7 linked regions of the Homo sapiens genome follow. The protein of the gene in region 6 purifies or fractionates together with the protein of the main gene of each other region. This does not show direct contact. Each region holds a gene or a part of one and is shown on either strand. Other genes may lie near its edges.

Region 1 (3,500 bases), on a different chromosome or scaffold from region 6:
ACTACTATTATATGCAACAATAAACATGAATTTCAAAAGCCTTAGGCTAAGTGAAACCATATAAAAAAAAAGCTACATCCTGGACGGTTGCAGTGGCTCACGCCTGTAATCCCAGCACTTTGGGAGACCGAGACGGGCAGATCACCTGAAGTTGGGAGTTCAAGACCAGCCTAACCAACATGGAGAAACCCCGTCCCTACTAAAAATACAAAATTAGCCAGGCGTGGTGGCGCATGCCTTGTAGTCCCAGCTACTCAGAAGGCTGAGGCAGGAGAATTGCTTAAACCTGGGAGGCGGAGGTTGCAGTGAGCTGAGATGGCACTATTGCACTCCAGACTGGGCAACAAGAGCTAAACTCTGTCTCAAAAAAAAAAAAAGCTACATCCTGTATAATCCTATTCATTTGAAATTTAAAAACATGTAAAACTCACTACGGTGACAGAAATCACAATGATTGTCTATGGGTATGGGATGAAACAGAAGGGGACCCAAGGAAACTCTCTTGGAGGATGGAAATGCTATTTAGTTTGATTGGGTTATGATTACATAGGTATATATATTTATCAAAAATCACTGAATTATATACTGAAAATCTATGCATCTCATTGTATGCATAATTTTAGCTCAACAAAGTATTGTCAGGGAGAAAAAGAAAAAAACAAAACAACTTTAAACCAGACTTCTAGTTCAGGATATCAGAATGACCACAGTATTTTTCTTCTCCCCATAAATGGGTACTAGGAGGGAACATGAGAGGATGTTCTGGATCACTGGTTTTGTTCTAGTTATCTTGTTCTAAATGATGATTATATAGGTGTTTCAACTTTGGGATAATTTATCTAATTATACTCATGATTTGTACATTCTTCTGTATATATGTTATATTCAATTGTTTAAAATGAGCCAATGAATCAGGTACAAAAGTTCTATCTAGCTACTGAATTTTCATTAAGGATGTTAAATTTACCAAATAATGGTTTGGTTTCTAAATCAAAACAAAAGTGAAAACACTCCTTAGCTCTGATGATCAGCATTAGTCCCAGTGTAGGCCTAAAATACCAGCTTTTCAGCTCCCAATAAAATGCACACATGAAAGTGACTTCACGAAAGACTGTAAGATAGATATACTCTAGGTAACCTCAAAGCATCCCAATAAAATATGAATCCATTTTCTTACCCCATCTTTATCCTGATATTCTATAGTATGTTTGCTGAAAATGTATCCACCATACTTCTCAAAATAAACTGTAACTTTTTTTTTTTTTTTGAGACGGAGTCTTACTCTGTCACCCAGGCTGGAGTGCAGTGGCACGATCTCGGCTCACTGCAAGCTCCGCCTCCCGGGTTCACGCCATTCTCCTGCCTCAGCCTCCCGAGTAGCTGGGACTACAGGCACCCGCCACCAAGCAGGGCTAATTTTTTTGTATTTTTAGTAGAGATGGGGTTTCACCGTGTTAGCCAGGATGGTCTCGATCTCCTGACCTCGTGATCCGCCCATCTCGGCCTCCCAAAGTGCTGGGATTACAGGCGTGAGCCACCACACCTAACCAATAAACTGTAACTTTTATACAATTTATGTGTCAGAGAGCTTGTTTTTGCCAAATCTTCATTTGGACCTCTGCTAGACTACCAAATTCCCTGAATATTTTTTGAGAATAACAACATGTAAAATCTGATGACTGAAGTGTTGTGAAGGTAGCTAAATTCAAAAATCAAAAATATATAATGCAGGCAATTAACACAACTATTCTATATTCTCTGATAGTATTTAGAAGTACAGAAAACAGAGGGTGGGTTAATCAAGACAAATAAAGGTCAAGGTCACAAAGGAATTGGTGGGGATGGGGTGGTTTGGGGATTTTAAATGAAATCACTAACTAGGGGATCTGACAGTAAAAGAGGAGAAAATGAAACCAAGAGACTTAAATGACTAGGACCAAAAATCAAACAGCACATTTATCACAATTCAAGCAGCAAAAGTGGTAGAAAGGCAAGATGTTATAGTGAAAAAAAGAAGAGTTTCAGAGTTCAAGACAGATTTCATCTACTTAATTGTATACCTGAAAATGAATATAGGAGTATCTACCATTAGAATTATCAACCTATTGCATGGTGCCTGACCCAAAGTAGAATCTGAACAAATAAAAGGTAACTGTTATAAGTTGATGAAGTAAATGCAAATTACTTTTAACTTTTACCTAGAAGACAATTACAAACTCAAATCTACTGAGAAAAAAATAAAACTTATTCCAAGCTAACTATAAATAACATATAGCCCAATTGATATTTTTAGATTATCCAATCAAATGTTCTCTTCTTTTCTTAAGGCTAAATTAAAGTTGATTGGACAGATATTACACATGCAAATATATAACCATATATACTCAAAACAAAATTTTACTTTTTTCTGGAGCAATTTTAAATCACAAGTACATTGGTTTATATAATTTTTTTCTACATCTGTAGAATTTCTACACTGCCCTTATAACTCAATATTGACCACAATGAGATTAATCACAAATCTAAAGAAGGAAGATAACTTATAAAAATTGATTTGGTCTTCTTACTGCAGACACAGTCAAAGCAAGAAAACAGTATTAAGTAAGACAATAGAATTTTTAGTACTCACAAGCAATGGGAAAGATTAAATCATGTTAACAGTGAAGTTTGGTCTTGGCATCACATTAACTCATTAGGTGCCATATTACGCATTATACATTCATCCCATCAACTGATTCCTGAATGCAAATTTTAACAATTCTCCAATCAGCAAATGTATTAACCACAGCTTTGCCAATGATAAAATGATATTTAAAGCAATATTCTTACCTGCCTCAACAATTTCTCAATGGCCGACATTACCATAAGGCCTCTCCAAACTACTGGTTCACTTTCTTCAACCAGAAAGCCCATAGACATACTGCAACAGTAACATAAAAATACAACTAATTTGTATAAATTAATCAACATTATTCTGAAAAGTAACATTAAAAATATATATATGCTCACCAAGCAATACCATAATTCAAGAGAGGCCTCATTAGGTTGCCTGGAAAAAAAAAAAATCCTCTCTTTTAGAACAATAAAACACAACACATAAACATTCTGAATTGGGTTTTTTTTTCATCTTTTTAAAAATTTTTTTAATTAACAAAAATTGCATATGTTTACGGGGTACAACGTAATGTTATGATACATGTCTACATTGTAGTAGAATAATAATAAGTAAATAAATAATAAACCATGCTAATTAGCATTCCACATCACCTCACATATTCTTTCTTTGCAGTAAAAACATTTAAAGTCTACTCTTTTAACAATGTTGAAATATACAAAAAATGATTGTTAACAATAGTCACCATGCTGCGCAACAGATCACTAGAACTTATTCCCCCTGTCTAACTGAAACTTCGCACTACTTGACTAACATCTCCCCTTTGCCCGTCCATCCTTCCAGGATCAAAGAATACCAAACTGGAAATACAAATAGGCTACTCATA
Region 2 (3,500 bases), on a different chromosome or scaffold from region 6:
CAATGCTAATCCTCTTGAAATAATTTGGTTTTCAAAACTCTGTCCTTGTACTGTTCTAATTTTAACATCAGTAAACCATCATTGTTATTTTTGTTTTTAATTTTTAGAGACAACGTATTGCTATTCAAGCCTCTCTGTTGCCCAGGCTGGACTTGAACTCCTAGGCTTGAGCAATCGTCTTACCCATTGTCCCTTGTGACAATGACTTGAAGTGATTCAAAAGGCCTTTATAGAAATGTCTTTTCTTATAAAACAAGCATACTAACTAGAAGGGGAAAATAATATTTAAATATTGACAGTCATTAACAGGATCACTCAAACACTGTGCTCTATGATGTTTGACTCTTCTTAGAGGAGTGCAGTGGGGTATCACACAGCTTCTGCTCAGGTACAATCATGTTTTCAAAAGAAAAGGGCTGGGCGTGGTGGCTCATGCCTGTAATCCCAGCACTTTGGGAGGCCAAGGCAGGCGGATCACGAGGTCAGGAATTCAAGACCAGCCTGGCCAACATGGTGAAACCTCATCTTTACTAAAAATACAAAAATTAGCCGGGCATCCCAGCTACTCGGGAGGCTGAGGCAGGAGAATTGCTTGAACCCGGGAGGCAGAGGTTGCAGTGAGTAGAGATCGCACCACTGCACTCACTCCTGGGCGGCAGAGTGAGACTCCGTCTTGGGGAAAAAAAAAAAAAAGAAAAGGAAAAAGGGACTGATTTTAGTATTAAGTACTCTGTACTGACTTATTTAATATATTTATAATACTTTTATGAAACCTCTTACAATATTGAATCATCAGAGCTAAAATGTAGTTGTGTTTTTAAGTGTCTCTGGGCTGTTACACTTACTATTTTTAGCAGCAAAACAGGCTTTAATCACTATAAAATTGTGTGACTTTCAAAAAAATTTTGAGGATTCATTATCTAGAAGTCATTTAAATTTTCAAAAGGTCTTGCATGTGTCTTTTATCATTCCTGAAGATCTCTGTGCTAACAAATCTCATAGCTCTGGTGCAAATACAGAGCCCTTTTTATATCTCAAGCCAACATCAGGAGTAACCACTCCTTCATGAGCACAAGTGCTGATTTCTAAATCATTCCCAATCCACATTTGCTAAGTGCAATTTGAATGTTATTTTATAACCCAAAATTTTCTTAAGGATAGACATTATATAGTAAGTAAATGGAAAATGGTCCTCCAGTGGCTGGGGCATATGTTATAGTTAGATTACCTAATCTAATAAGAATGATCTGGATTTTCAGTAAATTCTTTATATTTTATGGAAATGGAAAGAGTGGAGTAGTATTCCAAGACAATGATCATCACCCAACATTGTCTTTTTATTTACAGATATATTTGGGGGGTGTGTGTATGTGTATGTGTGTACTAAACACATTTTTGGAATTAACTTGATATAAAATTAAAATATCAACCTTTCATAAAGTGTTTTAAGAGAATCTGAAAGCCCTTCAACTTTTCTCTCTCAGAATACTGTAGATACCACTTTGGATTAGCCTTTCTATCCAGACAGTAAATTTGAGAAACATCTTTGGCATAAAAGAACATTTCTAAATTCTGACCTTGAAGGAGGGTTGGTCTTCAAATCACCTTTTCTCTAGTTACTTCAGGAGCTCTGTTTCATGCTTCCTACAAAGCAAATCGATTTTTAAAGAGGAGGTAACATTCAAATAAAAAACCTGGTACTCTGGCATTTCCAGGCTGGCCACATAAGGAGCTCTGTAAACCCTCTCTCATACGAAACAAGCATAACTAGTAAAAATTATTATTTTAAAAAACAACTATTGAAAGTCTTTAGAAGATGTCCTAAGGAAATACATCAAATGAAGAAACATTTATTAATCAGTAATAATAGTGAGAGTTTGAGGCATTTAAGCCAAGACCCTCTCCCAGCACCTCCCCATCCCTAGCTCAGTATGACGGAAGCTCCACTCTATATGGATATAGCCAAGAAGCCAGAGGTTTCCTCTCTACCCAGGTCCTACTCCAGAGATACTGCATTACCCCAAGATTGGGTGCCAGCATTTCTTGTCATCCCCAGTTTTGTAGGACAGAAGCTCTGTCCACGCAGAAACAGCTGAGAAGTCTGGGGTTTCCTTCCTACACCAACTCCTCATTCCAGGACATAAGGTCTTCAGGTGTGGCAGCTGGAAAATCCTGTGTCCCAATTGCCCTCACTCCAGCTTACTTGTAAGGAACAGTTTCTCCACCAGGAGAGGCAAGGCAAGAAGTTACCTTTCCCACCCTGTGCCCTACTTGTAAGCAGAGGTTTTACTACAAAGGAGCAGGCCACTCTCACTCCCCACAGCTTCAGAGCAGTGAGGCACATTCAACCAAGAGGTAGAGGGAGGCCATGAAAATACACAGCTTGGTAGCCCTCCCCAAGTGAACTGATTTCTATTTGGAACAGAGGATGGATAAGTTTAAGCATAGTGGTATGAAGATATTGGCAGTAAGCAATTAAGAGAATTTTGATAACTCCAAGAGAGTAATGAGTTAAGCCAGGGAAGTTTAACAGAGAAAAGAAAAAAGAGTCAGCAAACTTGAAGCAAGATCAATAGAGATTATGTATCCTGAAGAATACAGAGAAATAATAATGAAAAAAATAGATCATCAGAGAAATATCAGACATAACTAAGCACACCAATATATACGTAATTGAAAATACCAGGAGAGAGAGAAAGGATCAGAAAAAAATATTTGAAAAATAATGGTTGAAAACACCCCCAAATTAATAAAAATCATTAATCTAAGATACAGAAACTCAGTGAAATACAGATGACACAAAGAAGTTTATATCCAGACACATCTTATTAAAAACTTTGAAAGCCAAAGTCAAGAAGGAAATTTTAAAAGCAGTAAGAGAAAAATCATATATACAAGGAAACGCCAGGATCAACAGCTACCTTCTAATCTGAAAGAATGGAGGCCACAGGACAGTGAGATAACATATTCAAAGAGATGAAAGAAAACTATTGTCATGAAGAAACTTACACCCAGCAAAACCGTCTTTCATGTTCAGTAGCACAGGATGACTATAGTTAACAATAATTTATTGTATATTTCAAAATAACTAGAAGAGTGGAACTGGAATGTTCCTAACAAAAAGAAATGATAAATGTTTAAGGTGATGGATATCTCAGTTACCCTGATTTGATCATTACACATTGTTTGGTTGTATCAAAATATTACCTCTACCCCATAAATAACGTACAACTATTAGGTATTCATAAAAACTAAAAATTAAAAAAGATAGTAAATATATCCCTACTTACAAAAAACAGAGAATTCACTGCTATTAGCCTGCATTAGAGGAAATAACAAAGAACGTTCCTTCAGGTTGAAGGGATATAACCCAGACAATAATCTGAATCTACACACAAAAAACAAATAGCACTAATAAAGGTAAGTGTGCAGGTAATTATAAAAGAAAGTATAATGTCATATTTCTTACCCTTTTCAGTGCTTAACTATTTTAAAAAGCA
Region 3 (3,500 bases), on a different chromosome or scaffold from region 6:
TGAGGGAGGGGGTGGGGAGGGGTGAGGGAGGGGGTGGGGAGGGGTGGGGGAGGAGGAGGAGAGGGGAAATAAGGATGGGGGAGGAGGAGGGGGAAAAAGAGGAGGGGGAATGAGGAGGAAGAAGAGGGGAATGAGGAGGAAGAAGAGGGGAATGAGGAGGAGGAGGGGGAGGAAGAAGATGGGGAGGAAGAGGGGGAGTGGGGGGAGGAGGAGAAGAAAGAGGAGGAGGAAGATGAGGAGGAGGAGGAAGATGGGGAGGAGGAGGGGGAGTGGGGGGGAGGAGGAGGGGGAGTGGGGAGAGGAGGAGGGGGAGTGGGGAAAGGAGGAGGGGGAATGGTGGGGAGGAAGAGGAAGATGGGGAGGAGGAGGAGAGGACGGGAATGCCTCTGTCACTGTGGGCAGTAACTGTGAGCCTAGACTTTGCCGGGAGTGCCCGACTGGTGCAGGGACCCACGGGAGATGCTTTAGACGTCATCTCTCAGGATCGGCCTAGTCTTCACCTCTCTTTAAACCTGGGGTGCTGCTGTCTTCCAGGTCAGGGATAGAGCAGTGATGGGAGGGGCTCTGTCCTCGGCGGGGAAATGGGTTTATGTGTTAAGATGGGAATCACGTCATCTGCACACAGGGCTAACTCCTGGGTGGTCAGGGAAGGGAACCACCAAAGTGGACAGAAATAGCAGCTGCCTTTTGAAATCGGGGGATGGGGTGTGGCCCCTCCTGTCTGGTCAGATTCACTCTCCAGATCCTGGGGCTGTTTCTCCCTGAGCAACTGTCTGTCCTGTCCACGCAGTTCGGTGTCCTGGACAGTCAGCAGCAGCGCTAAGAACTATGCCAGAAACTCTCAGGGACACGCCTGGGCATGTCCAGATACAACGTGGGGAGGGAGGAGGAAGGTGCTCCCCCTGCAAAGTGGCAAAGGGCCAGTGGCAGCAGCAGCACCTGGAACAGCGTCGGGGGCGCGCACATTCACAGTGACTTTCTGGGGTGTCCTGGGGCTCCCCAGCTCTGGCCCTGGGCTGAGGGAACCCCAGACTGAAATATGAAAGGAAGTGGGGAGGGCAGGGCTATATTTAGTGGACAGAGGGAGACCAACAACGGGGTGCTTCTGGGGATGCTGGGGAGAGTGGACGGCGGGGGGACCCTAGCCTGGAGCCCTGACCCACAAGCTCACTACACAAGTGCCTGGAGCACTTCCAGGCTCTGTGAGGCTCTGGGGAATGGACGAGGCCCTACAGCCAGCAGTGTGGCCTCATGGGCTGGGCCGGCCCCCTGAGTCCTGGCCCTCAGATGCCGGGTGAGTCATCCTGGTGTGGTGCCGAGCAGCTCCCTGTGCTGCGGCTGGCCTGGGCTTGTGTAGTCTCTGCAGGATGCCCCATCCCATCCAGAACCACAGGAACCCAGCCAGCAGCAGCCGCTTGCAGAAGAGCAGACATGACCGAAAATAGAAGGTGGGGAGAGGAGAGAGGAGAGAGGCCTCACCCCAGGGCCTTACCTTGGCAGGTCCTGCCATCAGAGGAGAGCTCGAAGCCGCTGTGGCAGGAACAGTGGAAGCTACCCGGCTTGTTGTGGCAGATCTGGAGGCAGCCCCCGTTCTCCTGGCTGCATTCGTTGACATCTGGGAACAAGCACAGGCCTGAAGGGGAGCCCAAGGGTGCACAGCCCCTGGCTACGGTAGGAAGAGATCCCAGAGGTGCACAGCCCAGCCCTGGAGCAGGGAGGGAGCCCAGAGGTGCACAGCCCAGCCCTGGAGCAGAGAGAGATCCCAAAGGTGCACAGCCCAGCCCTGGAGCAGGGAGGGAGACCAGGGGTCACAGCCTAGCCCCGGAGCAGGAGGAAGGGACCCCGGGGGTGCACAGCCCAGCCCTGGAGCAGGGAGGGAGCCCAGGGGTGCACAGCCCAGCCCCGGAGCAGGAGGAGGGGACCCCGGGGGTGCACAGCCCAGCCCTGGAGCAGGGAGGGAGCCCGGGGGTGCACAGCCCAGCCCCGGAGCAGGAGGAAGGGACCCCGGGGGTGCACAGCCCAGCCCTGGAGCAGGGAGGGAGCCCGGGGGTGCACAGCCCAGCCCCGCAGCAGGAGGAAGGGACCCCGGGGGTGCACAGCCCAGCCCTGGAGCAGGGAGGGAGCCCGGGGGTGCACAGCCCAGCACTGGAGCAGGGAAGGAGCCGGGGGGGTGCACAGCCCAGCACTGGAGCAGGAGGAAGGGACCGCGGGTGTGCACAGCCCAGCCCTGGAGCAGGGAGAGAGCCTGGGAGTGCACAGCCCAGCCCCCGAGCAGAGAGAGATCCTAGAGGTGCACAGCCCAGCCCTGGAGCAGAGAGGGACCCCAGGGCTTGGACCTCACACCCCACTCAGCAGCCCTAGCGTTTCATGGCCCCTGGTCCTGGCCTTGCGTGTGGAGGTAGATGGTGGGAGGGCATGGGGGATCCCCAGCTGCGGTCTCAGCCTGGGGAGCTGCTGGCAGTCACAGCCCACAGGGCTCAGCTCCCTGGATGCCCATGTGCTTGCAGGAGGAGGCTGCAGGCCAGGAGTGACCTCTGGGTGCCGAGGACAGACAAGGCCAGGCCAGAGCTGGCCACTCCTTAGCAAAGCCCTCCCAGGCCACCTGTGGGGTAGGATTTGCCAAAGGGGACAGGCTGGCCTGCTGGGCTCTCCACTATGGGTCTCCACCAGGCCCTGGAGCTATTCTTCCTCCAGGGTCTTCACTGACACCACAGGTCTACACTGAAGGACGGTCAGAGGTGAAATCTCCCCCCGGCCTTTCAATCAGTGGGTGCCACTGACACCACAGGTCTGCACTCAAGGACGGTCAGAGGTGAAATTTCCCCCCCGCCTTTCAATCAGTGGGTGCCACTGACACCACAGGTCTGCACTCAAGGACGGTCAGAGGTGAAATTTCCCCCCCCGCCCTTCAATCAGTGGGTGCTGAGGCATCACTTGGTGTTTCCTTTCCTTCCAGCCCTGCTCCCAGAAAGGAGACTGCAGCTCCTCCCAATTCTCCTGGGGCTCCAGGATACCTCAGGGCTGCAGCCTCCTTGGGGCTGTCGGAGAGCAGCCTGAGGATGGCCGTGCCCCGGAGTGGGAGTGAGGAGCGGGGATCAGGGCAGGGTCGGAGATGGAGGGAGACCCCGCCTTTGTCTTCAGCCTCACGTACCTTTGTCGCAGAGCCGGCCCCCCCAGCCAGCTTTACACAGGCAGAAGAAGTTGCCCATGAGGTCCTGGCAGGCTTGGGTCCCCTTCCTATCGCAGGGGTTGGGCGTGCACTGGTCAGGCAGGTCTGATTGGGGACACAAAGTGGAAAATCATGTTCAGCTGCCCCACCCCTGCGCGCCCAACGCAGCTGAGATCGGGGCGGCTGTGGGGTCTCGGGTCCAGCCCGGAGGAGCTCTGAGGGGCGCAGGCTGAGGCAGCCCCTGGGCACCCGAGCCCTCTGTGCTGGCCTAGGGCTGACAGAATAGGCTGGCGGGCCCTGGGGCCGGCTCCAGGAAAACTCAGATCAACTG
Region 4 (3,500 bases), on a different chromosome or scaffold from region 6:
GGTTCTCCAATTTCTCTTTCTTTGGACATCTGATCTATCTTAGTGCTTTTAACCACCAGTGGGAAATATAACCAAGTAACAGCTTATTAGAATTATTCTTAAAACAGTCCAAATGCAGTGGTGCATGCTTGGAATTCCAACACTGTGGGAGGCCAGGACGGGAGGATCACTTGAGCACAGGAGTTCAAGACCAGCCTGGGCAACATAGGGAGACCTAGTCTCTACAAAATAAAAATAAAAATGTTAACAAATTAGCCGGGCATAGTGGTATGTGCCTTTCGTCCTAGCTCCTTGGGAGGCTGAGGTGGGAGGATTGCTTGAGCCTGGGAGATCGAGGCTGTAGTGAGTTGTGATGGTGCTACTGCCCTCCAGCCTAGGTGACAGAGTGAGACCCTGTCTCAAATACACACACACACACACACACAGACACACACACACACACACACGCACTTAAAATAAGAATCAGTAGGCCTCTACTATGCATAAAGTGCATGCATGGACTTCATTAGAAACTTTTTCTTTTTGTCACTCAAAGGCCTTATTTGCAGTATTCTGGGTGGATGTCTGACATCGGATAAAAGGGGCATTACTGACGGGGTAGATTTTTTATTTTATTTTATTTTATTTTAATTATTGAGACGGAGTCTCACTCTGTTGCCTGGGCTGGAGTGCAGTGGCACGATCTCGGCTCACTGCAAGCTCCGCCTCCTGGGCTCGCGCCATTCTCCTGCCTCAGCCTCCTGAGTAGCTGGGACTACAGGCGCCCACCACCAAGCTCGGGTAATTTTTTGTATTTTTTAGTAGAGACGGGGTTTCACTGTGTTAGCCAGGATGGTCTCCATCTCTTGACCTCGTGATCTGCCCGCCTCAGCCTCCCAAAGTGCTGGGATTACAAGCATGAGCCACCGCACCCGGCGACAGGGTAGATTTTTTAAAGGGAAATGAAGCCTCAGGATGCTTGAGGGACTTGTAATACACGATATGAGAGCAAATATCTACTCCATGGCCAGAGCTCTTTCCACCTCACATATATTTTACAAAAGTTTTACTTTATTCTGGAAAAGTATATTCTGATGAATATTTATTAAACACAGAGACAGTCTCTGTTCCAGTTACTGCAGCTAAAATAATGCCTAAGATACTGTTCCTGCCCTTGAGAGGAATGTAGAAAGTGTATCCTCCATGTGCCAGGCATGGTGGCTCACGCCTGTAATCCCAGCACTTTGGGAGGTTAAGGCAGGCAAATCACTTGAGGTCAGGAGTTCAAAACCAGCCTGGCCAACATGGAGAAACCCCGTCTCTACTAAAAATTCAAAAATTAGCTGGGCACGGTGGTGCGTGCCTATAATCCTAGCTACTCAGGTGGCTGAGGCAGGAGGGTCACTTGAACCCAGCAGGCAGAGGTTGCAGTGAGCCGAGATCATGCCACTGCACACCACCCTGGGTGACAGTGGGACCCTGCCTCAAAGTCTCCAGTAAAGAAAAAAAAGAAAGAAAGAAAGTGTATGGTCCACCTGTGAAAATATTAAAATGAAGATATGTAAGTTTTAACATCTTACTCTACTTCCCTAGAAGGAACTTTAGATAGAAAAGTCCCTGGAAACTTGTTTGGTTTTAAAGTGTGTAATGCCAACTCAGCAACTGTAGTTCATTCAGTTTCTACATCTGAACAAAATTCTTCCTTTTAGTGAAATGTAGAAATTTAGAGCTCTTATAATCATAGCAAGCATTTATATGTATATCTGTACTCTTCCCAAACATGTTTTCACATTTAGTTTGGTCTTTGTATCCCTGTGAAGGTAGGTTGTGTCCATTTTGCAGATGAAGAAACTGTGCTTTGGAAATACTAAATGACTTGCCCAGGTGCTGGAGCATATGTTCAAATTCAGGATTTATATGCATAGGAATGTGTGAATGTAATGTGTTGAGATTCCTTAGCAGTCAGAACTATTTTAATTTAAGGTGGTGGCACTGGTGTAAGCAATGAGAGAGACGATTAACCCCTAAACGGTTTTAAAATATGCTCACATTGCCACTTCGGATGATTAAAGTCTTAATTCTGAATGGAGGGGAAAAAAATTGTTGCCATCGAAACCAATAAATGGAGCATTATTTAATATGTGTATTAAATTAAATACATATTAAAAAAGAGCATTATGCATACCTGATAGGTAGTCTAACAGTGTCTGGATTTTTATTTTCTCAATTGAGTGAACTCAGAGATGCTATGTATTGGTGATTCTTACCGTACAGGATTAACATTAAAAATAAAGGGTTATTTGAGATCATTTCTAACATCTCTTCTAGATGTAAAATTCTGTGTTATTGGCCAGGCATGGTGGCTCACGCCTGTAATCCCAGCACTTTGGGAGTCCGAGGGGGGCTGATCACCTGAGGTCAGGAGTTCGAGAGCAGCCTGGCCAACATAGTGAAACCCCATCTCTACTAAAAATGCAGAAATTAGCCGGGTGTGGTGGTGCACACCTGTAATCTGAGCTACTCGGGAGGCTGAGGCAGGAGGATTCCTTGAACCCGGGAGGTGGAGGTTCTAGTAAGCTCAGATCACGCCACTGCACTCCAGCATGGGTGACAGAGTGAGACCCGGTCTTAAAAAAAAAAATTTCTGGGTTATTATGTTACTTATTTTTATGCAAGATTTATATAATGCTTCTTAACTTGACTTAATGTTTTTTCTCTTTTAGTTTTTGAAAACTTAGGAATCAAGCCTTATTTTAAGGTTGCAGTAGATGGAGTAGAAAATTTAGTTATGGAGTAGAAAATTTAACCTTTTGTGTTTGAAATTCACATGCATTTACCCATAGAAATAACCCTCCGGTCCTCAGGTTTCTGAAACTGCAAAACCAGAAAGCACAATTATATAATGGGTAAACTAGGCCTTGGAGAGTTACACAGGAAAGCCAGCCATATTCATGACATTGCTTCTTTGGAAAACATGCATTCTTCTGCAAGATTGGGAATTTGTTTCTAGGTCTGTCAGACTCCTATACTTGCAAAAGTATCTTGAAGTAATTTACTAAAGAGAACATTGTTATTTCAAAGGTAGAGGCTATTGTGCTGCTTTGACACCATTGTCTAGCAACAGAATGGGGATAAAAGCTTGAGTCTTCAAATGTGTGTTTTTCTGTAGCTTCTTTAAGTATTTTGAGTGCACTCTTTGGTTTACTCTGGGAATAAGTAATTTTTACTTAAGCAAAGTTACTTATTTTGTTGTGGTAAGAGGATTCTGCCTTTGATTGGATTGTATATTTCCATGTCTTTATTTTCTTCAAAGAATGGAAGATTGGGCCAGCAAGATGTACCACAAGGGCCTAGAGTTGTCATCACAGAGTGATTCAGTAGATGGTCAGATGAGGGCAGTGATTTCAACTGATGACTGGGGTGAGGGAACTGATTGTTTTTAGCTATGATACTTAATATATTTACATTTTTTCAACCAACATTAAAAGAAGGATTGATTTTTATGTTTATTAAAAGAGGGA
Region 5 (3,390 bases), on a different chromosome or scaffold from region 6:
GGGCTCGGCCCCGCGGCAGGCCTGGCCCCAACCGGCCCTTCCTGCCCTTTGCTATGCAGAGCCATCAAGAGCCTGCAGTGGATGGCGGGCGGCACCTTCACGGGGGAGGCCCTGCAGTACACGCGGGACCAGCTGCTGCCGCCCAGCCCGAACAACCGCATCGCCCTGGTCATCACTGACGGGCGCTCAGACACTCAGAGGGACACCACACCGCTCAACGTGCTCTGCAGCCCCGGCATCCAGGTGGGGTGGCCACCCCCAGGCTGCACCTGCCCCGCCTAGGGCGCCCCGCCAGCCAGGGTGGCCTTGTCCCCAGAAAGACGAGGGCAGAGCAGGCTGCGCCACACCGATACTGTCTGTCCCCACAGGTGGTCTCCGTGGGCATCAAAGACGTGTTTGACTTCATCCCAGGCTCAGACCAGCTCAATGTCATTTCTTGCCAAGGCCTGGCACCATCCCAGGGCCGGCCCGGCCTCTCGCTGGTCAAGGAGAACTATGCAGAGCTGCTGGAGGATGCCTTCCTGAAGAATGTCACCGCCCAGATCTGCATAGGTGCGCATGGGGCCACCCGGGCAGTCCCAGATCTGCGTAGGTGCGCGCGGGGCCGCCCGGGCAGTCCCAGATCTGCGTAGGTGCACGCGGGGCCGCCCGGGCAGTCCCAGATCTGCGTAGGTGCACGCGGGGCCGCCCAGGGCCGTCCCAGATCTGTGTAGGTGCGCGCAGGCGCCCAGGGCTGTCCCAGAGGCCTCCTCCCAGCTCACTGTTACCTCCAGGGGCACGGCCACCCTGTAGGTGCGCACGGGGCCGCCTGGGGCTGTCCCACAGGCATCCTCCTCCCGGCTCGCTGTGACTTCCGGGGGCACGGCCACCCCTGTGCTCGGCCGGGAGGTCCTGTGACATCTCCTTGCGGGGTTATAGGTGGAGCAGTGGGCTCACACTGCACGGCTTTTCTCTTTTACAGACAAGAAGTGTCCAGATTACACCTGCCCCAGTGAGTACCTCGGCGGCCGGGACACGTGGGGAGGAGGGCACCGTGGTTGGGGCGAGGGCTCTGAGAGGACGGGGCTCTGGGAGGAGGGCCTGGCGGTCACGAGAGTAGGTGCATGGCTCACTCCGGTGGCTGAGCACCACCGTGCCGTGCCCTCTCTGGGGAGCTTAGACGCTCTCTGGCCGGCCCACTGCGGCTGCATCACCAGGGCCTCATGCTAACGGCTGCCCACCCCGCCCCGCAGTCACGTTCTCCTCCCCGGCTGACATCACCATCCTGCTGGACGGCTCCGCCAGCGTGGGCAGCCACAACTTTGACACCACCAAGCGCTTCGCCAAGCGCCTGGCCGAGCGCTTCCTCACAGCGGGCAGGACGGACCCCGCCCACGACGTGCGGGTGGCGGTGGTGCAGTACAGCGGCACGGGCCAGCAGCGCCCAGAGCGGGCGTCGCTGCAGTTCCTGCAGAACTACACGGCCCTGGCCAGTGCCGTCGATGCCATGGACTTTATCAACGACGCCACCGACGTCAACGATGCCCTGGGCTATGTGACCCGCTTCTACCGCGAGGCCTCGTCCGGCGCTGCCAAGAAGAGGCTGCTGCTCTTCTCAGATGGCAACTCGCAGGGCGCCACGCCCGCTGCCATCGAGAAGGCCGTGCAGGAAGCCCAGCGGGCAGGCATCGAGATCTTCGTGGTGGTCGTGGGCCGCCAGGTGAATGAGCCCCACATCCGCGTCCTGGTCACCGGCAAGACGGCCGAGTACGACGTGGCCTACGGCGAGAGCCACCTGTTCCGTGTCCCCAGCTACCAGGCCCTGCTCCGCGGTGTCTTCCACCAGACAGTCTCCAGGAAGGTGGCGCTGGGCTAGCCCACCCTGCACGCCGGCACCAAACCCTGTCCTCCCACCCCTCCCCACTCATCACTAAACAGAGTAAAATGTGATGCGAATTTTCCCGACCAACCTGATTCGCTAGATTTTTTTTAAGGAAAAGCTTGGAAAGCCAGGACACAACGCTGCTGCCTGCTTTGTGCAGGGTCCTCCGGGGCTCAGCCCTGAGTTGGCATCACCTGCGCAGGGCCCTCTGGGGCTCAGCCCTGAGCTAGTGTCACCTGCACAGGGCCCTCTGAGGCTCAGCCCTGAGCTGGCGTCACCTGTGCAGGGCCCTCTGGGGCTCAGCCCTGAGCTGGCCTCACCTGGGTTCCCCACCCCGGGCTCTCCTGCCCTGCCCTCCTGCCCGCCCTCCCTCCTGCCTGCGCAGCTCCTTCCCTAGGCACCTCTGTGCTGCATCCCACCAGCCTGAGCAAGACGCCCTCTCGGGGCCTGTGCCGCACTAGCCTCCCTCTCCTCTGTCCCCATAGCTGGTTTTTCCCACCAATCCTCACCTAACAGTTACTTTACAATTAAACTCAAAGCAAGCTCTTCTCCTCAGCTTGGGGCAGCCATTGGCCTCTGTCTCGTTTTGGGAAACCAAGGTCAGGAGGCCGTTGCAGACATAAATCTCGGCGACTCGGCCCCGTCTCCTGAGGGTCCTGCTGGTGACCGGCCTGGACCTTGGCCCTACAGCCCTGGAGGCCGCTGCTGACCAGCACTGACCCCGACCTCAGAGAGTACTCGCAGGGGCGCTGGCTGCACTCAAGACCCTCGAGATTAACGGTGCTAACCCCGTCTGCTCCTCCCTCCCGCAGAGACTGGGGCCTGGACTGGACATGAGAGCCCCTTGGTGCCACAGAGGGCTGTGTCTTACTAGAAACAACGCAAACCTCTCCTTCCTCAGAATAGTGATGTGTTCGACGTTTTATCAAAGGCCCCCTTTCTATGTTCATGTTAGTTTTGCTCCTTCTGTGTTTTTTTCTGAACCATATCCATGTTGCTGACTTTTCCAAATAAAGGTTTTCACTCCTCTCCCTGTGGTTATCTTCCCCACAAAGTAAAATCCTGCCGTGTGCCCCAAAGGAGCAGTCACAGGAGGTTGGGGGGCGTGTGCGTGCGTGCTCACTCCCAACCCCCATCACCACCAGTCCCAGGCCAGAACCAGGGCTGCCCTTGGCTACAGCTGTCCATCCATGCCCCTTATCTGCGTCTGCGTCGGTGACATGGAGACCATGCTGCACCTGTGGACAGAGAGGAGCTGAGAAGGCAACACCCTGGGCTTTGGGGTCGGGAGCAGATCAGGCCTCAGTGGGCTGGGGCCGGCCACATCCACCGAGGTCAACCACAGAGGCCGGCCACAGGTTCTAGGCTTGGTACTGAAATACCCCTGGGAGCTCGGAAGGGGAGTTGAGATACTGCAGGGCCCATAGGAAGAAGTCTTGGGAGGCTCCACCTTTGGGGCAGAGGAAGAAGTCTTGGGAGGCTCCACCTTTGGGGCAGAGCAAGAAGAGGGCGGAGGGCAGAGGCAGCGA
Region 6 (3,500 bases):
GGATCTGCCACACTGGGGGGGATTCTACTTGGCCTTCTCTGACTCCCCAGGGTCCCTCCCACCACAGCACTTGGAGGCTCTTCCATGGGAAAACTGTCTTGATCTTTAGGTACCTGGAGATTCTGGGCCACTTTGGTTCCCCGTGAGCCAAGACGGCACTCTGGTTTGCATTCCCTACTGGAGTCCCTGTCTGTAGCCAGCCTGGCTTTCAGCTGGTGCCCAAAGTGACAAATGTATTTGCAATGACAAAGGGTACCCTGGGAAGGGCTCGCCCTCTTCGGAATTTCAGTTTACGTGGGCCTTGGTGCTTCCACATCTGTCCAAGGGCCTTTCAAATGTGACTTTTAACTCTGTGGATTGATTTGCCTGGTTGTCACATTCTGAGCAGCCACAACCTACTGCATCCCATGTAGAAGTGGAAGTGACCTGATTTTTTCCTGACTTTTCAAGGCTGTATGTTTACATTTGCCTCCAATCATTCCTATATGGGAATTCCTTGGGAGTCTAACTTGGAGATTTTGTTTCTTCTGCCTTTGCTCCTGGGGGCTTAATCACTTCTGTGCCTCTGGTTATCTGTGGCACATTTGTATTTGTCATTAGTCAACCGGAGACTCGGGGTCTGAGTGGAGGGTATGTCCCCCTCCAGTGATGGTTTCTGTTGGCTTCCCAGGGTGAGGATGACTCATGACCACTTGCAAGTGGTTTTTGTGTCTGGGGTTTATGATCACACAGTCATACACGTTCTAACTCCAGACTGACTGTTGAGAAAGCCTCTGGGTAAGGAATTCCTGGGAAACACACTGTTTTCATGCATCCTCTGGAAGATGAGGCCTGAAGTTACCAGGGTCTCTGTTTGCTGATGCTGATGATCCACATTTTCTAGCCCACTCTGCTTCTCTGACACCTTTAGTCTTGAGGATCCATGCTCTGTGAAGGAATCCAAGCTCTCATTTCGCACTCACCTTGGCCCTGGCTCTGTCTCCAGGACCTCTTCTACTACAAAATCCTAAAGCTCTGGGAGCTGGGTGTCAACCTGTGCCCGAGGAAATCATACAGTTACTGTGGACTTTCCAGTTTGCTGTCTTCTAGTATTCCATTGTAGCTCTTGGGTATTTTCCCATCCACCCCAAGATCCAGCTGGAAATCAGTGAACACACTTGATGGGAGTTTTCCTGCATGTGCTCTGGGCATTGACAGTAGAAGGGTGTTCAGAATGTCTGCTGTGCCCTCATGGAGGAAGAGGGCCTCAGTGTACATGCTCTGGGTCAGTAGGTGCCCTTGAGCCCAGCTTTGGGAGCAAGTGTTGGATGAGTGAAGGAGGCATCCAGGGAAAGCAGGCACGACAGAGTGGAGACGGGGCTGCTGGGTCTCAGGGGAATGGGCATGGAGTGGGTAGGAGATCCACCTAGGGAGGCTGGCTGGCTGGACGAGTCAGGAGCCCCTTCCAAGGGTGGACACTGACAGGCCCCCAGTCTTGGTCTCCTGCATGCCAGAGGTACCAGCCCATCTTTTTTCCTAAACTTGATGACCTAGGGCTAGGGGCATTTTGAATCTCAGCCTCGCCCACTGGCGCTGGACTTGGTACACAGGGTGGGGCAAAGTGGGTACTGGATCCTGATCATCCCTATCCCTGGGGTGTGGCTTCTTGCTGCACAGTCAGCTTCTAGTTCTGTAGCCCCAGCTGCTCCTGCGGTGGAGGGAGCTACACATCAGGCTCTGACCCCCTCCAGGTGGGGCCTTCGCGTGAGGGGAGTCAGCACGCATCAGCAGCTGGGCCCAGGGAGTTGCCCCACTGAGCACTGCGGGCTGACCTGCTCCCAACCAGGGAGATGGAGCTTCCCCCTTGAGTCGGGCTGCTGAAGGGGGGTAGGGGATGGAGACAGTGCGTTTGCAGGAGTAAGGGTGCAGTTGGGTCCCTGCGAGAAAATGTCTCAGTTGTGGCAACTGATTGGTGACCTGGGGGGCGTTTCTGAGCCCACAGTGCTGGCATCAGGACTCAGGTGTGAGGTGCCCCAGACCCTCCCCTTGCCAGTAATTAGCTGATGGCTCGGTGATGCCCAGGGTGAAGGAAGACTTGATTTTGGGAGGGGAGTTCTCTCGTAATGACACTGAGGATGCCTTCAAGTTGGGCTTCTGGCATGTTCTGCCCTCGCTCCCCTTCTGTAGTCACCTTGGCCCTCGTGTTGCTGAGCTGTGTGTGGGAGCGGGAAGCGCGTCAGTGGGCGGAGGGAGCGGGAAGCGCGTCAGTGGGCGGAGTATTTGAGAACATTTCACAAGCCGCTGTTGAGGTTCAGAATCAACCAGCAGATACAGAAACATATTTCGGAGCGTGGGGACCCTTGGGTGAGCTGCCACATGAAGCAGCCCCAGGACCTCCCTGGCTCAAGGAGTGACAGCGAGTTTGTCTGAGGTGAGGGCACAGGCCTGGCGAAGCCTCGTGTGTGGGTGAGACCTGCCCGACCCCAGTGCCTTACCCGAGGAGCTACTGGCCCAGTGGGGGAGGCATTCAGGTGGGCAGAGTCAGGGAGACTCATGAGGCCGTTGAGGCCAGGGGCATAGAGCTGGCCAAGGAGCCATGGCTCACTAACGTGTTGTATGGGGCTCCTTCCCTTCAGGTCCAGGCTCCTGCGTGAAGTGATGCTCCTCTTTGCCTTACTCCTAGCCATGGAGCTCCCATTGGTGGCAGCCAGTGCCACCATGCGCGCTCAGTGTAAGTATCATTCCCTCTCACTGTCCTGGAGAGGACGAGAATTCACCTGGGGTGCTGGGGGTCACTGGGATGATTGGCTGCAACGTGGAGCAAGCCTCCGTTAGCTGGGGCCTGCATTGTCTGTGTAATCAGGGGTGGGCACTAGGGCAGTCCAGGAGTAGTCATGAGCAAGGAGAGGGTTAGGATGAAGGAGCAGCTGACCAGGGACCAAGGGGGAACCTTGATGTGGCCCTTCTCCATCAGCGCCAGGCAGGAGGGGCTCTGTCCAGGGAAACCCAGGAGGATGGCGGACCCCTGTGAGTATCCAGTCTTCCTTGGCGAGGTGAGCCAGGTCTGCAGAGCATAGCAATCCCGTATGTGACCACCAGTGGCGCTCTCTGGAGCCTGCGTTGGAGAGCAGGGAAAGCTCTCCTTGTGCCTGGCCTCCCTCCCAGGAGCTAGCCTGGGCCAGACTCAGACTGCATAGAGAGCTGAGCTGTGCAGGCTAGGAGAAGTCCTTGGAAGCAGAGGGGAAGGGCTGGCCGTTGAAGAAGGGTGGAGTGAGCTGGTAATGGGTGGAAAAGGCGTAGTGGAGCAGAAGCCTGAAGCCTGCTTTCTCCCCTCTCAGGGACTTACAGTTTGAGATGCCATGACTGTGCGGTCATAAATGACTTCAACTGTCCCAACATTAGAGTATGTCCGTATCATATTAGGCGCTGTATGACAATCTCCATTCGTAAGTACCTCTTTGTCATTTTGACACATTGTAGATTAGTCCCCTACCTGGGTAGTTTCTGGGGCCAGGGCCAGT
Region 7 (3,500 bases), on a different chromosome or scaffold from region 6:
GTCACGAAATGCCCATGAGGGGCGTGCTCGCTAATTCTGGCTTCATAAATCTGTTGTTCAAAGAGTGGTGGATTATCATTGAGGTCGGTAACGTCCACCGTGACAATCACATCACTGCTCAGCGTGGGCATACCACCATCAACTGCCCTCACAAAAATCGTGTGCTGCCGGGACTGCTCGTAATCCAGGGTTCTGAGTAGTGAGATGAGGCCAGTGCTGCTGTCTACATGAAAATGATCATGACTCTTGCTGTGATTCCCAAACATCTGGTATGAGATTCCTCTATTTGGTTCTGAATCAGAATCGGTGGCTCTAACTTGAACAACAGACGTTCCAATTACAGATGCCTCAGACAGGGTCACCGCATAAGACTGCTGAGCAAACACAGGAGGGTTATCATTGATGTCGTCTACTATGATGTCCACAAATACTTCAGCATGAGCGCCCGTCAAGGAGTCAGTTGCGCGTATGCTCAGCTTATATGCCGGGTGGGCCTCAAAGTCCAGAGGAGCTATGACATTGATAACTCCAGTATTGAAGTTAATAGTGAACTGGCTGAAAGGGTCTCCGTCTGTGATGCTGTAGAACACTTTCAGGCCTTCCGGGCTGTTAGCCTGCACGTGGACCACAGGGCTGTGCACCTGGATGCTCTCTGCAATCTCTGCACTGTAGAAAGGTTTTTCAAACACAGGCATGGCTTTATTCATGACAGTGATCGGAACGATAACTTCCGCTGAAAAGGCCGGGTTCCCTCCATCTTTTGCAACCACTGTAACAAGATATTCTTTATTTAAGGTGTCAAGCTCAAATTGCTTTTTCAGTGAAATTTCACCCAAGGGTCCAATTTGAAAGTGTTCATGATGTTCCTTGAGGTAGTAATGCACTTCCCCGTTTCTGCCACTGTCTCTGTCTACAGCAGTGACATAGCGAATGACATGGCCCACCTCAGTGTCCACTTTAACAACGGCGTAGTAGGGAAGGTTGACAAACACCGGCGCATTATCATTTTGGTCTTCTACAATGACCTTCACGACAACGTGGGCCACTGCAGAAGGCTTATGTTCCTCTGTCACTTCTACAACCACATCAAACGCCTCCTGCTGCTCACGATCGAAGGGCGTGCCAGTGGTTGACAGAACTCCTGAAGTGCGGCTTATTTTAAATCTGCGATCTGGGTTGAGGATGTGATAAAACAAAGGCTCATTGATTGGATTCCCAATAGCAGTAATGACAGCTAATGTTTCGGCCTCGGTGGAATTCTCTTTCACTACCGCAGAGTAGACATCCTGGGTAAACTTTAGGTGACTTTCTTTGCTTTCTTTCACATTAATTTTGACAGAGGTAAGGCCGGCAAATCTGCCATCGGAAGCTCTAACGGTTAGCTCGTAGCGGCTTCTTAACTGAGTTGTGTTTTGGACAGTGAGAGCACCAGTCTTGTAGTCCATAGAAAACTTCTCCCCGATGTTGCCTTCGGTGATGGAGTAAATCAACTGTGAGAATGCACTTGAATCAGCATCTGTAGCATTTACTGTGATGACTTTTACTCCTTTGTATGTTGGTAACAAAAGAGATGCTTCATATAATGGCTTGGCAAACACAGGGGGGCAGTCATTAATGTCAATTACATGTACTGTTACATTCGCTGCATACTCAGCAAATAAACGTGGGGTTCCCATGTCATGCACTTGGACGGTAAAGTGAAAAATACTTGTTTCTTCATAGTCCAGACTTAGTACTGTATGAATAGCACCAGTGCTAGAATCAATAGCAAAATATGTGTGTACAGATGGTTCAACAATGTGATATACAAGCAAAGCATTTGAGTCTTTATCAGCATCAGCTGCTCGAATCACCAGTGGGACATTCCTGTCTGTTAGGACCACGCTGTTAATTGAGGCTGATTCACTAATGAGTCCTGTATATTCTGCCTGCATAAAAACTGGCGCGTTGTCATTCTCATCCTGCAAGTGAACTAGAACCGTTGTATTAGTGGACAAACCAGCCATGTTAGTTCCTTGTATTATCAATGTGTAAATGGGCAAAGTTTCAAAGTCCAGGGCTTTCTGAGTGATGATAGTTCCAGAATGTGGATTAATATCAAAAGCATCACCTGTATTTCCATCTTTTATTTCATACACCACTGATGATTGACTATGGGCTGTAACCATCCCAACGAAACTCCCAATGCTGACAGTTTCACTAAGTTCAACAGAATATTCTTTTGATGTAAACTTCGGAGAGGCGTTGTCAGCAATTGTGACAAAGATACGCACAGAAGTTATTTCACTCATTGGTGGACTGCCCTTATCTGTAGCTTTTACCATTAAATCATACTCCGCTTGGTTACTTCGATCTAATTCTTTGGCAGTTTTAATAGAGCCCAAGACAGGATCAATCATAAAAGAATTTCCAATATTTCCTGGAAGGAGAGGAAAAAATACATGTTACAGAAAAACACAAGGGGCAGTAGTAGTAGTAGTTAGAGAAACAGAAACAAAGTATCCTTAAAAATTATATTCTGAAATTAAGCAGAAACTCAGGGGATGTCAATATTTGAATGGAACCTTCAACTTGTTTTATTTTTATCCACCTAAAACCAGGTATACTTTACAGAATTTTGTCCATAAATGATGAAAAACAAAAAACAGAAGAAACAGCACTCTGCTCTTAGCGAAGCCAAAACTCCCTCTCTCGGCTGCACTGGGAATGTGTGGTGGAAAGACAAGGCTATCCTTCCACAAAGCAGTTGAGTGAGTCACTTTCCAGGAGTCCCTCAAAACACTTCTGGACCACATTTGTATTTTCAACGGTTATGACTTACAAATTCTTAAGATATGTATTCATTACGAAAGATTTCGATTCAGTAAGAAATTGACATCAAGCTTCAAGAGACAATTGTCCATGGATAAATGTGTGTAACCCACCCCACTTTACAGGTTTTGAAGATTGCAACAACATTCCCTTCTTATCTTTTTCAGGTCAACTTATCCTCTAGGTCAGTGGTTTTCCCCTGGGGGCAATTCTGCTCCCTAGGAGACATCTGGTAATGCCTGCAGACATTTTTGGTTGTCACTACTTGTCGGAAGAGGGTGCTCCTGGCGTCTCGTGGGTGGAGACCAGGGGTGTTGCTAAGCATCCTACAACGCACAGGACAGCCCTACACAACCAAAAATATCTGGTTCCAAATGTCAGCAGTGCTGAAGCTGAGAGGCTGCTCAAAGATAGAGTGTTTTACCTCCTTTTCTTTGGACCTTTTCAGGCTATACTGTATGTATCTTTAGCTGCAACCACAACTCCAGAATATTGTATAATTTTGTATCATCGACTGAATCTTCAAAGAAACAAGCAGTTCTCTACAGCCCTTTTGGATAAATCAGGGTGGCGTTGCAGGTTCTCAGGTTTAATCCATCCACGAGCCCATCCTTTTTCTGTTTCATGAACAAGCACCCAGAATTCACCATCCCTGTCATAGCACAGAATTTATTTTCCCCAAATGAACT

The links.
Region 1: the proteins of GML (region 6) and NUBPL purify together in Homo sapiens (affinity purification with mass spectrometry; one large-scale study listed by BioGRID and IntAct). This does not show direct contact.
Region 2: the proteins of GML (region 6) and CNTNAP3 purify together in Homo sapiens (affinity purification with mass spectrometry; 2 studies listed by BioGRID and IntAct, with this or other methods). This does not show direct contact.
Region 3: the proteins of GML (region 6) and GAS6 purify together in Homo sapiens (affinity purification with mass spectrometry; one large-scale study listed by BioGRID and IntAct). This does not show direct contact.
Region 4: the proteins of GML (region 6) and AAGAB purify together in Homo sapiens (affinity purification with mass spectrometry; 2 studies listed by BioGRID and IntAct, with this or other methods). This does not show direct contact.
Region 5: the proteins of GML (region 6) and COL6A1 purify together in Homo sapiens (affinity purification with mass spectrometry; one large-scale study listed by BioGRID and IntAct). This does not show direct contact.
Region 7: the proteins of GML (region 6) and FAT1 purify together in Homo sapiens (affinity purification with mass spectrometry; 2 studies listed by BioGRID and IntAct, with this or other methods). This does not show direct contact.

Annotation. Positions count from the first base shown.
Region 1 is NC_000014.9:31,672,904-31,676,403, reverse strand, and holds part of NUBPL (iron-sulfur cluster transfer protein NUBPL isoform 1 precursor), read right to left. Parts: intron 3,050-3,500; coding exon 3,010-3,049; intron 2,921-3,009; coding exon 2,830-2,920; intron 1-2,829.
Region 2 is NC_000009.12:39,096,168-39,099,667, reverse strand, and holds part of CNTNAP3 (contactin-associated protein-like 3 isoform 1 precursor), read left to right. Parts: intron 1-3,500.
Region 3 is NC_000013.11:113,836,577-113,840,076, forward strand, and holds part of GAS6 (growth arrest-specific protein 6 precursor), read right to left. Parts: intron 3,275-3,500; coding exon 3,152-3,274; intron 1,672-3,151; exon of another isoform or gene 1,616-1,671; coding exon 1,493-1,615; intron 1-1,492. UniProt on the Homo sapiens protein: Ligand for tyrosine-protein kinase receptors AXL, TYRO3 and MER whose signaling is implicated in cell growth and survival, cell adhesion and cell migration.
Region 4 is NC_000015.10:67,248,162-67,251,661, reverse strand, and holds part of AAGAB (alpha- and gamma-adaptin-binding protein p34), read left to right. Parts: intron 1-3,500. UniProt on the Homo sapiens protein: May be involved in endocytic recycling of growth factor receptors such as EGFR.
Region 5 is NC_000021.9:46,002,159-46,005,548, forward strand, and holds the end of COL6A1 (collagen alpha-1(VI) chain precursor), read left to right. Parts: intron 1-59; coding exon 60-243; intron 244-368; coding exon 369-552; intron 553-961; coding exon 962-991; intron 992-1,232; coding exon 1,233-1,855; 3' UTR 1,856-2,890; downstream 2,891-3,390. UniProt on the Homo sapiens protein: Collagen VI acts as a cell-binding protein.
Region 6 is NC_000008.11:142,837,801-142,841,300, forward strand, and holds part of GML (glycosyl-phosphatidylinositol-anchored molecule-like protein precursor), read left to right. Parts: intron 1-2,615; 5' UTR 2,616-2,637; coding exon 2,638-2,710; intron 2,711-3,317; coding exon 3,318-3,425; intron 3,426-3,500. UniProt on the Homo sapiens protein: May play a role in the apoptotic pathway or cell-cycle regulation induced by p53/TP53 after DNA damage.
Region 7 is NC_000004.12:186,619,357-186,622,856, forward strand, and holds part of FAT1 (protocadherin Fat 1 isoform 1 precursor), read right to left. Parts: intron 2,420-3,500; coding exon 1-2,419.